Regions from separate parts of the Homo sapiens genome. Here region 2 is linked to region 1. The links come from fine-mapping of genetic effects on gene expression. Tissue or cell type: whole blood. Region 1 holds a variant in brackets; the other region holds the start of a gene. All regions are shown on one strand. Distances are between the middles of the regions.

What was found. PIP is the estimated chance that this variant, and not a neighbour inherited with it, causes the effect.
Region 2: it holds the start of DEGS1, and the variant in region 1 is fine-mapped to the expression of DEGS1 in whole blood (TOPMed, PIP 0.95).

Annotation. Positions count from the first base shown.
Region 1 is chr1:224,242,162-224,250,267 of GRCh38, forward strand. It overlaps NVL (nuclear VCP like), which reads right to left. Exons shown (of 23, transcript NM_002533.4): 19 at 8,051-8,106. Among named protein-coding and RNA genes, the nearest start is that of MIR320B2, 11 kb to the right of the region's middle. RefSeq lists an enhancer at 3,493-3,542. The variant C/G (reference allele first, on the strand shown) is at 3,202.
Region 2 is chr1:224,178,352-224,186,457 of GRCh38, forward strand. It overlaps DEGS1 (delta 4-desaturase, sphingolipid 1), which reads left to right and starts at 4,889. Exons shown (of 3, transcript NM_003676.4): 1 at 4,889-5,067. The coding sequence starts at 4,986. It overlaps LOC124900425 (small nucleolar RNA SNORA72), which reads left to right and starts at 1,290; the gene lies at 1,290-1,416. RefSeq lists enhancers at 4,065-4,214, 4,068-4,898, 4,475-4,564, 4,899-5,728, 7,202-7,261 and 1 more and silencers at 4,715-4,914, 5,015-5,394, 5,555-5,634, 6,936-7,230.

The sequences.
Region 1 (8,106 bases):
TTTGTGTTTAATGGGGACAGAGTTTCAGTTTGGGAAGATGCAAAAGTTCTGGAGATGAGTAGTGGTGATGGTTGCACAACAATGTGAATGTACTTAATGCCACAGAAATATATACTTAAAAATGGCTAAAATGGTAAATTTTATGTTATGTATCTATAGTATTTTACTAAAATCTGAAAAAAGTTATGGCTCATTTACACTGATATTTTCCTATAATTCGTATTAAACATTATATGTTATGAAATACTCAGGTTCAAAAAGTAATTCAAGATGTGCTACTACTTTTATTTTAACAAATATTTTCATTTGGTCATACAAATCTATTCTTTTTTTTTTTTTTTTTTGAGACGGAGTCTCACTCTATGCCCAGGCTGTGCAGTGGCGTGATCTCACTTCACTAGGTTCAAGCGATTCTCCTGCCTCAGCCTTCCGAGTAGCTGGGACTACAGGTGCACGCCACCATGCCTGGCCAATTTTGGTATTTTCAGCAGAGATGGGCTTTCACCATATTGGTCAAGCTGGTCTCAAACTCCTGACCTCAGGTGATTCACCTGCCTCGGCCTCCCAAAGTGCTGGGATTACAGGTGTGAGTCACCATGCCCAACCAAATTTATTCTTAAATCTATTCTTAACTACACATCAGAGTTTAGAATCATTAATGCTTGTTTTTTTTTTTTTTTTTGAGACAGAGTTTCGTCCTGTTGCCCAGGCTGGAGTGCAACGGCGCGATCTTGGCTCACTGCAACCTCTGCCTCTGGGTTCAAGCGATTCTCCTGCCTCAGCCTCCCGAGTAGCTGGAATTTACAGGTGTGTGCCACCGCACCCAGCTACTTTTGAATGAGATCACCTCATTCAGGTGATCTGTCCGCCTTGGCCTCCTAAAGTGCTGGGATTACAGGTGTGAGCCACCGTACCTGGCCAGTAATTTTATTTATTTATTTATTTTTTATTTTAAAATCCAGCTTCTGCATGAAGCAATTTTTATTCACACAGTCGACTGTGAAAAATTAATGAAAGGGCCGGGTGTAGTGGCTCAGTCTTGTAACCCTCTACCTTGGGAGGCTGAGGTGGGTACATCGCTTGAGCTCAGGAGTTCAAAACCAGCCTGGGCAACATGGTGAAACCCTGTTTCTACAAAAAAAAAAAAAAATTAGCTAGGCCTGGTGGCACGTTCCTGTAGTCCCAGCTACTCAGGGAGCAGAGGCGGGAGGATCACTTGAGCCTGGGAGGTTGAGGCTGCAGCGAGCCAAGACCGCACCACTGCCCTCCAGCCTGGGTGACAGAGCAAGACCTTGTCTCAACAACAACAACAACAAAAAAGTTTGTAAAAAGTTTGCTCATCAGTAAAAGGAAAATATTTAAATATTTTGTAAGACATACACTTCAAAGGGAGTTTCAAGGTTTAAGCATGTGTATAAATGTAAAATGAAAATACTACATGGAACAGAGTAAGGGCTTAATAAATGTTAGCTATTATTATATCAGGTATTCTTAAGTCATACTTTTTTTTTTTTTTTTGAGATGAGGTCTCGATCTGTCACTCAGGCTGGAATGCAGTGGTACAATCTCGGCTCACTGCAACCTCCACCTCCCGGGTTCAAGAGATTCTCCTGCCTTAGTCTCCCAAGTAGCTGGGATTACAGGCACCGGCCACCACACCCAGCTAATTTTTGTATTTTTAGTAGAGACGGGATTTTGCCATTTTGGCCAAGTAGGTCTCGAACTCCTGACCTTGTGATTCGCCTGTCTCAGTCTCCCAAAGTGCTGGATTACAGGCGTGAGCCACCACACCCGGCCTTGTCACTCTTTTAAAGACTGTATTTTATCTGAAAGTATTTGGCAGATATCAAATAATGTTTCTGGTTTTCTGAGATATTTTAATGACACTTAAAAGGAAGTAGAAGTTATGAAAAAAAAATCTGGGGGCCGGGCGTGGTGGCTCATGCCTATAATCCCAGCACTTTGGGAGGCCAAGGAGGGCGGATCACATGAGGTCGGGAGTTCGAGACCAGCCTGGCCAACATGGAAAAACCCTGTCTCTACTAAAAATACAAAATTAGCTGGGCATGGTGGCAGACACCTGTAATCTCAGCTATTTGGGAGGCTGAGGCAGGAGAATCACTTGAACCCAGGAGGCAGAGGTTGCAGTGAGCTGAGATCGCACCATTGTACTCCAGCCTGGGCGACAAGAGCAAAACTCCGTCTCAAAAAAAAAAATTTCTACTTCTCAGGCAGCTTTTAGTGATAGACCTCTTATCACCACATCATCACTAGAAATACCAAATAAAAAATATAAAAAAGTAGTATATGGCTCGCTCTTTTTTATTTGAGGTGGAGTCTCCCTCTGTTGCCCAGGCTGGAGTGCAGTGGCGTGATCTCGGCTCACTGCAACCTCCACCTCTCTGCTTCAAGTGATTCTTTTGCCTCAGCCTCCTGACTAGCTAGGACTACAGGCGCATGCCACCACGCCCGGCTAATTTTTGTATTTTTAGTAGAGATGGGGTTTCGCCATGTTGGTCAGGCTGGTCTCCATTTTTTTTTTTTGAGATGGAGTCTCACTCTGTTGCCCAGGCTGGAGTGCAGTGGCGTAATCTCGGCTCACTGCAATCCCTGCCTCTTGGGTTCAAGTGATTCTTTTGCCTCAGCCTCCTGAGTAGCCGGGACTACAGGCACGCACCACCACGCCCAGCTAATTTTTATATTTTTAGTAGAGATGGGGTTTCACCATATTGGCCAGGCTGGTCTCGAACTCCTGACCTCGTGATCCGCCCGCCTTGGCCTCCCAAAGTGCTGGGATTACAGGTGTGAGCCACTGTACCTGGCCCACTCGCTCTTCTTTTACAAAACTTAGATCCCAAAAGATATGAAGAAGTTGCTTTGACCTACAAAATATTTCAGACTTTTAAGAACAGGACTAAAGATCTTTATTCTAATCTCCTTATAATATTTCAGATGTTAATAGGAGAAAGAGAAAATTGTATATAAAACAATCTGAGGAATTAAAGTCAAAAGCCAGCAAACTGAAATAAAAAGGGTAAACATTAAAAATGCCAATTTTCCTCACTTTCTGTTGACTTACAAAGAACATACATGGGCAGGAAGTCTGCCTTGTGACTTCTCCCCTCTGAAATTAGATATTGTGCTTCCTCTTCCTCTCAATCTGCCCTGCTTTAGCCATCAACAAAGCTTTTTAAACAAAAA[C/G]ATTCATGACCTCTGAAGGATGAGGTAAGATAAGGATGTGAAATTGCACTGCTAACAGCTCTCTTGAGAGGGCACCAGGCCAACGCAGGCAGACAGGGCACAGGGAGGCTGCATGTGGGTCCTGCTCCTCCTGGGCAGCTCTGCCCAATGAGGTTCCAAGTCTTAGAATAGGACACAGTCAGAATTGGAGCAAAAATGCACTCTCAAGTCAAAGAGAATAAACTAACAAAAGCCCTTCTGCCGTTGGCACAGACAGAGGCTGAGGACTGACTATGCAGCAGTCTAAACCACAATCTACAAAAGTTGCTTTTGGCCCAGCATGGTGGCTCACACCTGTAATCCCAGCACTTTGAGAGGCCGAGGTGGGTGGATCACCAGGTCAGGAGTTCCAGACCAGCCTGGCCAACATGGTGAAACCTCATTTCTCTAAAAATACAAAAATTAGCCGGGCGTGGTAGCACGTGCCTGTAATCCCAGCTACTCGGGAGGTGGGATCCGTCCACCTTGGCCTCCCAAAGTGCTGGGATTACAGGTGTGAGCCACCATGCCCGGCCAAAGTTGACCTCTATTGAAATGTCTTTTTTGATTTTTTTCTTCTTCCATATTCACAACTTTGTGCTTGGAAGCTGCAGGGCTCCTCTCTGTTACCCACCCCATTTATGCCAGATGACTTTTTTTTTTTTGGAGACAGAGTTTTGCTCTTGTTGCCCAGGTTGGAGTGCAATAGCACGATCTCGGCTCACCACAACCTCTGCCTCCCGGGTTCAAGCTAATTCTCCTGCTTTAGCCTCCTGAGTAGCTGGGATTACAGGAGCACACCATCACACCCAGCTAATCTTTGTATTTTTGTAGAGACAGTGTTTTGCCATGTTGGCCAGGCTGGTCTTGAACTCCTGACCTCAAGTGATCCACCTGCCTCGGCCTCCCAAAGTGCTGGGATTATAGGCATGAACCACTGTGCCTGGCCGAAGTGGGGTACTTTAAATATTCACCCTTTGGTCTGAGGCCTAATGATTTTGGCAAATAGCACTGAAATTCTAGATGAATGAAGTATAAAGTTGTTCTGGTGTGAGTACCATACATTGAATGAAACACAGCAGGAAGAATGAGCCAATCATTCTCTGGTTCCAAATCTATAAAGCTCTGAATACCACATGCCTCATGTCTGGCATGTCTAGAAATAAATACCAATCCAACTTTTCTCTTTAGTTCATGAAATCCCAAGGACAAGTGTGAAAGCATTATCATTATGTCACCATGACTACAGGAAATTCATAGAAACAAAATTGGATTATATGTGTGTGCTTATTTGTATATACATACACATCCACATACATTGACCAAAGCAAACAAAATCTCAAGACCATAGTTCCTAATGACAGAGCCAAGAAGGCCGGGCATGGTGGCTCACGCCTGTAATCCCAGCACTTTGGGAGGCCGTGGTGGGCGGATCACTTGAAGTCAGGAGTTTGAGACCAGCCTGGCTAACATGGTAAAACCCCGTCTCTACTAAAAATACAAAAAAAAAATTAGCAGAGTGTGGTGGCACGCACCTGTGGCCCCAGCTGCGTGGGGAGGCTGAAGTAGGAGATATGCTTGAACCCAGGAGGTGGAGGTTGCAGTGAGCTGAGATCACGCTACTGCACTTCAGCCTGGGCAACAAACAGGGTCTCTTTTTTTGACATACTGTGTCAAAAAAAAAAAAAAAAAAACAGAGCCAACGAAAGGGAGAGAAGATGCTATGATGCAGTCATCATCAAGCTTGTTTGATGCAAAGAAATAAGTATATGCAACCAAAGCAGGGTTTCTTAACTTTGGCATTACTGACATTTTGAGTCGGATAATACTTTTTTTTCCTTTGAGACAGGGTCTCAGCTCTGTTGCTCAGGCTGGAGTGCAGTGACGTGACCATGGCACACTGCAGCCTCGACTTCTTGGGGTTAAGCCATCCTCCCACCTCAGCCTACCAAGTAGCTGGGACTACGGGTGCATGCCACTATGCCCAACTAATTAAAAAATTTTCTTGGCCAGGCGCAGTGGCTCACGTTTGTAATCCCAGCACTTTGGGAGACTTGAGGCAGGTGGATCACGAGGTCAGGAGTTCGAGACCAGCCTGGCCAACGTGGTGAAACCCCGTCTCTACTAAAAATACAAAAATTAGCTGGGCTTGGTGGTGCACGCCTGTAATCCCAGCTACTCAGGAGGTTGAGGCAGGAGAATCACCTGAATGCGGGAGGTGGAGGTTGCAGTGAACCGAGGTGGCACCACTGCACTCCAGCCTGGGCAACAGAGTGACACTCTGTCTCAAAAAAAAAAAATTTGTTTTCTTGTAGAGACAGGGTCTCACTCTGTTGCCCAGGCTGGTCTCCAACTCCTAGTCTCAAGTGATCCTCCTGTCTCAGCCTCCCAAAGTGCTGGGATTACAGGCCTGAGCCACCATGCCTGGCCTTGGATAATTCTTTGTTGTTGGCTGTCCTGTGCACTGTGGAATATTTAGCAGCATGATCACTCCTCTGCGTAGTGGTAAATGTCCCTAGACATTGCCAAATGTTCCCTGGGGACGTGAGGTGGGGTGGTGGGAAAATTGCCTTAGGTTGAGAACTACTAAACTAAAGCAACATGTTTTCATGGCTTTGACCACCAGCTATGTCCTGAAGACAGACAAAACTATAGCCCAGCCAGAGGACTCTCCTGAACTCCCAACCACAGACCCAACATCCTGCTCAACTTTTCCACTTGATAGTGCCCAGGCACCTGAAACTCAGAGAGCTCATCTCCCAGACCTCTAATCCTGGTAGATGCCACCAGCTGCACAAGCTGCAAATTCATCTACCTTTTCCTTTAACTCCCAACTCTACAGTTAATCCAATGTCCTACTAATTAAAACCTTTAAACAGTTCTCATGTCTATATCTTCTTTGTTATTCCCGTGATAATGCCTTAGTTCGTTATTTTTTCTTTTTCATTGATGTTTCTCAGTCATATTGCCTTAGTTCTAACATGCTTAATTTCATAACTTTTACTTTACTGGCTTCCAAGCTATTTTCCATACTGTGCATCAATAGAATCTTTCTACCCTACAAAGATGATCATTCTTCTGTTCTCATCTGCCCTGTTCTCCCTCCTCGGGGTGATTTTTAGGAACATTGCTAAAGGCAGTTTTAAGTAACGATGGCCCAGTGAGGCAGGATCACAGAATCTTCCTTTGTCAGCATCAAAAGAATACTAAAAAAAGTTAAACAATTTACCAGTAGCAACCAAAGAAAGGGGTAAACCTTCATGCTGCAAATGTTGAAAAGTGGGTGCGAAGAGAAAATTTGAAAGTGGCTGATAATTAGGCGTCCATTCCTGGGAAGGAGTATTGAAGAAAGAAGGTAAGTTAACAAAATCTTGTGATGTCTATTAATATTCCAAGCTGGAGACAAGCAGCCTGAGGAGAAGATAGCTCTAGAAAAAGTTAGACACACACAATCAAGGGATTTCAGCAGATTCAGGAAGAACTGCCAAGGTATGCCACTTTCCAGGGAGCTGGACAGAACTGGGTACAATCCCATGGGAGTGGGACAGCTCCCATGGGGGGAGGTATCTCCAACTGGATGGAGAGAGCGGGTCCAGGTACAAGTGATTTCATCCCCAGAAGGATTAACACCACCAGCTTAGCTCCCTCTCCCATCCCAAGGCTATAGAAATGTAGAAACAAAGCACTTCTACAGACCTCAAAATGTGATGTGTGAAGGGCAGAAAAACTAGTTCCAGGTAGTGAGAAGTGGGATGACAGAAGTCATTCAATTTTTTTTTTTGAGAGAGGGTCTTGGTCTGTTACCCAGGCTTGAGTGCAGTAGCACGATCTTGGCTGACTGCAACCTCCACTTCTTGGGCTCAAGGGATTCTCCAGCCTCAGCCAGGCATGAGCCATTGAAGTCCAGCTAATTTTTGTATTTTTTGTAGAGATGGGGTTTCCCCATGTTTCCCAGGCTGATCTTGAACTCCTGAGGTCAAAGCAATCCACCTGCCTTGGCTTCCCAAAGTGCTGGGATGACAGGTGTGAGCCAACGTGTTTGGCCCACTTATTTATTTATTTTTAAATATAGGGTCTTGCGGGGTCTGGTGCGGTGGCTCACGCCTGTAATCCCAGCACTTTGGGAGGCCGAGGCGGGTGGATCACGAGGTCAGGAGATCGAGACCATCCTGGCTAACACGGTAAAACCCCGTCTCTACTAAAAAACACAAAAAATTAGCCGGACGTGGTGGCGAGCACCTGTAGTCCCAGCTACTCGGGAGGCTGAGGCAGGAGAATGGCGTGAACCTGGGAGGCAGAGCTTGCAGTGAGCCAAGATCATGCCACTGCACTCCAGCCTGGGTGACAGAGCAAGACTCTGCCTCAAAAAAAAGGATAGGGTCTTGCTCTGTTGCCCAGGCTGGAGTACAGTGGTGTGATCACAGCTCCCTGCAGCCTTGACCTCCTGGGCTCAAGCAATCCTTCCACCTAAGCCTTCTGAGTACATGGTCCCACAGGTGGGTGCCACCATATCTGGCTAATTTTTTCTATCTTTTGTAGAGACAGAGTCTCAGTATATTGCCCAGGCTGGTACCAAACTCCTGGGTTCACCTCGCCCTCCCAAAGTGCCAGTTTCTCCAAAAGTTTCTACTCCATTTCAAATATGATCTGATGTAAATTATTTTAAAGTAATAATCGAAGATCAGTTCACCTTCCCTTTGGGAGATATAGGCTGGGCAAACACAGCTACAGAAAAGAAAGTAATCAGTCAACGAAAATTACTACCTCTTATAACTGTCTCTATTTAAAACAAGAGAAACATATACAAAAATATACCATTTCCTTTACTCACTTTTGTGATAGTTTTTAAGATGGCAAGGCGATCTGCAGGGGGCGGTAAACCCACAA
Region 2 (8,106 bases), 64 kb before region 1:
GTCATCTATTTCTTGACACCAATAACAGACAACTACTCTAGTCAGTAATTAGTTGTCAATATATATTTTTCTTACTTAAAATGTATTATTTAAATATAAAATTAGCACATGTAAATTTATAGTTAAAACATTCATGAATTTGGGCCAGGCGCTGTAGCTCATGCCTGTAATCCCAGCACTTTGGGAGGCTGAGGCAGGTGGATCACCTGAGGTCAGGAGTTTCGAGACCAGCCTGACCAATATGGTGAAACTAAAGTACAAAAATTAGCCAGGCGTGGTGACATGAATCTGTAATCCCAGCTACTCGGGAGGCTGAGGCAGGAGAATCACCAGAACTCAGGAGGCGGAGATTGCAGTGAGCCAAGATTGGGCCATTGTACTCCAGCCTGGGCGACAGAGCGAAACTCCATCTCAAAAATAAAATAAAAAGAAAAGAAAAGAAATAGATAACATAAAATTCTTACGATTATTTGCTTGAAGTGAATAAAGAATGTTTTCTGTATTACTCTTCTATGAATTACAGTAGTCAATACCATTCAATCTCAACTGTTATCACTATTGAAATGGCCTCAAAAATAAACTGCCCTTTCAAAAATCAAGCAGATGGAAAAGGAAAAATCCATATTGATTTCAAAAGTACAGCTGCCCTCATCTGAAAACTACTTCATCTTAAATTTCCTAATATGATCATGGCTGGCTGCGATTCACCACAGCTTCCAACAGCCGACTGGAGAGCGTTTTTCCAGAATAACTAGTATGTTTGCTTCAAGACAAATTATTTGACAAGGTTAAGGAAAAGATGTGAAAGCTAGATAATCCATTAAGAATCTTTTTTTAAAACTTCAAGGCATTTTATTTATACTTCTTTTTTTTTTTTTTGAGACAGTCTCGCTCTGTCGCCCAGGCTAGTGTGCAGTGGTGCAATCTCAGCTCACTGCAACCTCCGCCTCCCGGGTTCAAGCTGTTTTCTGCCTCAGCTTCCCAAGTAGCTGGGATTACAAGCACCCACCGCCATGCCCAGCTAATTTTTGTATTTTTAGTAGAGACGGGGTTTCACCATCTTGGCCAGGCTGGTCGTGAACTCCTGACCTTGTGATCCACCCACCTCGGCCTCCCAAAGTGCTGGAATTACAGGCGTGAGCCACCATGCCTGGCTATACTTCTTAGCTTACTTTTTTATTACGCGTATATATTAAGAACTTTTAAAAGTCCAAATTAAAGAAGCATGCCTAGACATCATTAAAATAGCTATCAATGCCCATGACAATCCTGTAGCTCAAATAGTTTACTTTAGAATGTCAAAATTGATTTTGTAATAGTCAGGACAGGATAAACAGTCGCTATATTAAGACCATGTACGTGTCCCTAGACCTAGTTCTTTCCCTACGTCTGTTTTTATAAATGCTGGTGATAAACCAGGTCTGATTAATATATAATCATTTTGTGTGATTATGTAACGGCTATAATTCTAGGTTATCTTTGGTCAACCTTAAGAAAAATGGCAGTATATGTAATGACTTTTGCAAATGATCAGTGCTAATTTGCAGACTTTTGTTTAAAGAGGGTTTAAACAAAATAAGAAAATTTCATGATTACCAGTTGCTATTAAATGAATTGTAACTTTTTTTAAAAAAAAAGAATGTCCAAGCCAGGTGTGGTGCTCATGCCTGTAATCCCAGCACTTTGGGAAGCCAAGAAGGGCAGATCACTTAAGGTCAGGAGTTCAAGACCAGCCTGGCCAACATGGTGAAACCCCGTCTCTAGTAAAAATACAAAAAGTTGCTGGACGTGGTGGCACACACCTGTAATCCCAGCTACTCGGGAGGGTGAGGCAGGAGAATCGCTTGAACCCAGGAGGCAGAGGTTGCAGTGAGCCAAGATCTTGACACTGCACTCCAGCCTGGGCAACAGAGCGCAACTCCATCTCAGAAAAAAAAAATGGTATATCCAGATTCACATTTTTTTTCAAACTCTGCATTTTTCTTTCTTTCTTTTATTTTTTAATGTTTTTGAGACAAAGCCTCACTCTGTCACACAGGCTAGAGTGCAGTGCCACAATCTCAGCTCATTTCTCAGCTCATTGAAGCCTCGACCTCCTGGGCTCAAGCAATCTTCCCACCTCAGCCTCAGCAATAGGTGGGACCACAAACATGGGCCACCACGCCCAGTTAAATTTTTTTTTTTTTTTTTTGAGACGGAGTCTTGCTCTGTCGCCCAGTCTGGAGTGCAGTGGTGCGATCTCGGCTCACTGCAAGCTCCGCCTCCCGGTTTCATGCCATTCTCCTTCCTCAGCCCCCCAAGTAGCTGGGGCTACAGGCGCCCCCCCCACCATGCCTGGCTAATTTTTTTTGTATTTTTAGTAGAGATGGGGTTTCACCGTGTTAGCCAGGATGGTCTGGATCTCCTGACCTTGGAGACCGCCTTGGCCTCCCAAAGTGCTGGGATTACAGGCATGAGCCACCATACCCGGCATAATTTTTGTATTTTTTATAGAGGTGGGTTTTTGCCATGTTGCCCAGGCTTGTCCCGAACCCCTGCCCTCAAGCGATCCCCCTACCTCGGCCTCCCAAAGTGCTCAGACTACAGACGTAAGCCTCCGCACACCTTTTGGACTGGTGTGCCAGTTCACACATGCCTGTGATAGCAACTGCGTTCTGAACTGCAGGGATACATTTACTTGTCAGCACCTGAAAACTTCCTCCTGAGTTGAGTCCAATTATCAGCTTCATGTGCCATCTGCCAATCCAGATGAAACTTGGCAAATACAAAGCTGTCCTTTTCCAGGTGACACTCCCCACCTTCTTTTTCCTCCACCATTTCATTAACAACTAAAAAGCTCCTGCATGATCAGACCTGTGTATCTATCCATCATCAAATCCCACTCCTTTTTCGAGACTGGGACCCTCTGGAGGCTGACCCAGCCACGCATTTGCTAGCATGCCCTGCAGACATGACCCTCGCTGGGCTCTGATCAGCCTTCAGGCCTCCACTCCAGGTGTCACTGTTCTGTCTCCCCTCTGCTCTCACAGCCTTCTCTGCTAGATGTCTCAGCCGTGCTGGCCCTCTCTATTTCAGAAGTGAATGTACTGAGAGGGTCTTAGGGACTTATTAATAATGCTCCTGGGGTCGGATGTAGTAGCTCATGCCTGTGATCCCAATACTTTGAGATCACTTGAGCCCAAGCGTTTGAGACCAGCCTGGGCAACAAGGTGAGGCCCCATCTCTATCAAAAATTCAAAAAAGTAGCCAAGCATGGTGGTGCACGCCTGTGATCCCAGCTCCTCGGGAGACTGGGGTGGGAGGATGGCTTAAGCTCAGGTCAAGACTGAAGTGAGACATGAGGCCACCACTGCACTCCAGCCTGGGCAACAGAGCAGGACTCTGTCTCAAAAAAAACAAAACCCACTATAACCATAATACTATTATCACACTTAAGAAATTCATAATTCCTTAATATCATCACATATCCAATTGATATCTGAGTTCAATTATTTCATGTCAATGTTTTTAAACTATTTCAATCAGAATCTAAATGAGGTCAACACGTTGCAATTGGTTGGTATGTCTTTTAAACTCCTTTTAATCTACAGGTTTCTCTTTTTTTGCCTTGAGTTTCATTTATTAGAGAACCCAGACATTGTCCCATATAGTCTCCCAGAGTTGGATCTTGCTAGTTTCATCCCCACGGCCTAGTTTAACACATTCCTCTGTCCTTTCTATTTTCTTTTTTTTTTCTTGAGAGGGAGTCTCCGTCTGTCCCCCAGGCTGGAGTGCAGTGGCTCCGTCTCAGCTCACTGCAACCTCTGCCTCCCAGTTCGAGCGATTCCCCTGCCTCAGCCTCCTGAGTAGCTGGGATTACAGGCGCCTGCCACTACGCCCAGCTAATTTTTTTATATTTTTAGTAGAGACGGGGGTTTCACCATCCTGATCAGGCTGGTCTCGAACTCCCGACCTCAGGTGATGGACCCGCCTCTGCCTCACAGAGTGCAAGGATTACAGACGTGAGCCACCGCACCCGGCCAAATGTCCTTTCTATTTTCTATAAATTAACAGTCAGATCTAGGGGCTCGATCAGATTTGTGTGTGTGTGTGTGCCGTGTGCGCGTGCACAGCATGTTCTTTGACTAGGAGGCACACCTGCTTTGGTTATCTTCTTTTTGTAATCTTTAAGTTGCTCTTTGATGTAGACGTGGTAACTAATGTTGAAACAAAATTAGTTTCGTTTCAAAACCTTTCTTTCAGGAAGAGGTTGTGGTTGATTACTTCTGCGACAGGTAGATGCAAGGTTGAGCAATCATCTCTTAACAGAAGTGGTCACACTAGAATAATTCAAGCACAACAACAAATCCCACATCATCACCCCCTCTTAATAATGGTGTTTTCTTTTTACTTGATTAGCTTTTAATTGTCACGCACTCTGCATTTTTTCCCTGAGGTATTATTTCCAGAAGGCAGCGAAATATGACTCAATGGCTAATTTGCTTTTTAAAAATTAAACAAAACTTAGGCCAGCTGCCATTTAAGAAGGGCTCCGGGGCCTCCAGACTCGGTGTGACCGTAGCCGTGCCCGGTGCTCCCCTCGCGGAGGCGTTAGGGCGGCAGGTTTATCTCACTTGAGACCATTCCTTCCTTTTTCATCTTCTCCGGGCTCCGGCGCAGCAGGCCGCAGGGGCGGGCACTCGCAAGAACGCGGCATCCTGGATGGTGGCCGAGTCACCGAAGCTCAGAACCCCGCGTCCCAGAATCGCTGAGAGCCGGCCCCGCACGGGGGCCTGGGAGCGCCACGCGCCCTCCACCCAGAGAGGCAGGCGGGCGGGCCGGGGGGGGCGGGGCCTCGGGACTCCGCCCACGCCTCCGTCTCCTCCGCGCTCCGCCACAGCCGGCCGACACCACACCAGCCGGGGAGCCGCCGCCGCCGCCGCCACCTCTGAGCAGCCGGCTGGGAGCGAGAGCCGACAGCTAGTCTGCAAGCCACCGCTGTCGCCATGGGGAGCCGCGTCTCGCGGGAAGACTTCGAGTGGGTCTACACCGACCAGCCGCACGCCGACCGGCGCCGGGAGATCCTGGGTGAGGGCCAGCGGGCGCCCCGTTATGTGCGTGCGTGGCCTCCCGGCGCCGGGGCGCGCTCTCCCCTCGCGGGCCCTGCGCGGTCGTGGGCGCCGGAGGCCCGTTAGCAGCCTGCTCCCCGTCGCGTCCCGTCGCCGCTCGGGCCGCCAGCCCGCGGGTCAGCGCGGGAGAGGCTGGGCGAGGAGCGGGGGGAGGGACGGGTCCTCGGAGCCGCGCAGCTCCGACCCTTCCGCGAAGAGGCGCAGGCGCGTCCCCGAGCGCGGGAGTCCCCGCCAGGCCCACGCCGGCCGGTTGGGGCGAAGGGTGTCCCCGGCTGTGCCAGCCTTGAGTAGATCTTTTCGCTAGAAGATTCCTGTGCCCTCAGGTGGGCGCCCTTTCCTCTCACCACTCCCTCTCCTCCGGAGCGGGCCGAGGTGAGCGGGTGCCGGCCTTGGGGCTGCCTGAGTGCTAGGCAGGGTGTGGTCCTGGGCATCCTTGGGCCTACCAGCGAGCCCTGCTCAGGGTGTCGGGCGCCGGCGGGCAGTACTGGCGGGGGCGGCCGCAGTCCCGGCCTTGGGCCCGTTAAGGGGGCCGGCGTCCCTCCATATGCCCCCCGGGGCTTCTCGGACTTGATGGGCCCTGGTCGGTTCACGCCGCTTGTCCCATTGATCCTCACGACAAGCCTGGGACGTAAGAACGGCGGATTCGTAGGCATTTTTCATCCATCTCGGTTTTGTGGATGAAAAGACTGAAAATGGAAGACTTGCCAAATAAGGAAAATATGTGGCGTGGCCTGCTGGTCCCCTGACAGCTAATTGAGAGGCCTTAACTCTCCAGAGGATTCGGGCCTTCTGTGTTACATAGAGAATGCTCATCTCTCCCAGGCTACTCCTAATATGCTAGGGATTGTGTGGAATGCTTTACAAACATTACCCAATTTCATCCTCTTGGTAATTCTACTTGGTTGGTATTATCGCTGTTTTAAAAAATGAAATAAGAACGCGTGACTAAATGCTAGGGGGATTCTAATGCGCATTCGGTTGCCTCTTCCAGAGCACGTGTTTGTTTTTTGTTTGTTTGTTTTTTGAGACTGCACGTGTTTGTTTTTTGTTTGTTTGTTTGTTTGTTTTTTGAGACTGAGTCTCACTCTGTTGCTCATGCTGGAGTGCAGTGGCGCGATCTCCACTCGCTGCAACCTCTGCCTCCTGGGTTCAAGCGATTCTTCTGTCTCAGCCTCCCGAGTAGCTGGGATTACAGGTTCCCACCACTACGCCTGGCTAATGTTTGTATCTTTTTTAGTTAGAGACGGGGTTTCACCATGTTGGCCAGGCTTATCTCGAACTCCTGACCTCAGGTGATCCGCCCGCCTTGGCCTCCCGAAGTTTTGGGATTACAGGCGTGAACCACCGTGCCCGGCCAGAGCACGAGCTTTTTAACCTCTGTTGAGGAAACGGGGACCGGTCACGGTAGCTCAGGCCTGTAATCCTAGCACTTCGGGAGGCTGAGGCGGGAGGATCGCTTCAGCCCAGAAGTTTGAGACCATCCTGAGTAACATAGTGAGAGCCCCCCGTTTACACACACACACACACACACACACACACACACACACTTTTTTTAAATTGAGGAAACGGTGAGTTGAACATGAGCAATTATTCCTTATATATAGTATTTCCTTAGTTTTTCTTCTCAACATTCATTTGCCCAGTGAAAAGAAAAAGCAAGTAGCTGGGACCACAAGCGCACACCACCATGCCTGGTTGATTTTTCTATTTTTTGTAGAGATGGGTTTCTCCGTGTTGCCCAGGCTGGTCTTGAACTCCTGGGCTCAAGCAATCTGTCCGCTTTGGCCTCCCAAAGTGCTGGGATTTTAAAGGCGTAAGCCACTGCACCCGGTAACTTTGGGTTCTTGAATTCCCTTCCTCCTCTTCTTCCTCCTCCCCTACACTCCATTAGAGAAAGGGTCTTGCTTTGTTGCCCAAGCTGGAGTGCGGTGGTTGTTCACAGGCATGATGATCACTGCAGCCTGGGCTCCAGTGGTCCGCATACCTCAGCCTGCCAGTAGCAATTTGTTTGGCACATCACTTACACATACTTGATATGAGATAGCATGATACTTTTTTGAGACGGAGCCGCACTCTGTCACCCAGGCTGGAGTGCAGTGGCCCAGTCTCGGCTCACTGCAACCTCTCCCTCCTGGGTTCAAGCAGTTCTGCCTGCCCCAGTCTCCCGAGTACCTGGGATTACAGACGCCCGCCACCATACCTGGCTAAGTTTTTCTATTTTTATTTTTAGTAGAGACAGGGTTTTGCCACATTGGCCAGGCTGGTCTCAGATGATGCGCCTGCCATGGCCTCCCAAAGTCCTGGGATTACAGGCGTGAGCCACCCTGCCAGGCCACATATGATATATTTTATCAATGCCTTATCTACATGTTACATAGGAATAATCTAGCGTCCTACCTGTGTAAAAACCAACTCTGGAATACTGAAACTGAGCTACTTAATATTCTGAAAATCAGGACGGGTGTGGTGGCTTTTTTTTGCCTGTAATCCGAGCACTTTGAGAAGCTGAGGCAAGAAGATCGCTTGAGGCCAGTTCAGAACAGCCCCATCTGCACGAGAAATTAAAAAATTAGCTAGGCGTGCATGCCTGTCCCGCTACTCAGAAGGCTGAGGCGAGAGGAACACTTGAACTCAGGAGTTCGAGGCCAACCTGGGCAACATGGCAAAACCCCATCTCTACCAAAAAAAAAAAAATTTAATTAGCGGGACATGGTGGCATGTGCCTGTGGTCCCAGCTACACAGAAGGCTGAGGTGGGAGGATTGCTTGAGCTGGGGAGGTAGAGGCTGCAGTGAGCCGTGATTGCCCCACCGCGTTCCAGCCTGGGCAACAGAGTGAGACTGTCTCAAGAAAAAGAGATGAAGGAAGTGAGAAGGTGCTGATTGATACTTACCTCACACTGAGCCTTTTTTCCCCCCACAGACTTATCACTGAACCATTTCACTGGGAAAGTAAAAGGACCACATATTTCTTGGCCGGGCATGGTGGCTCACGCCTGT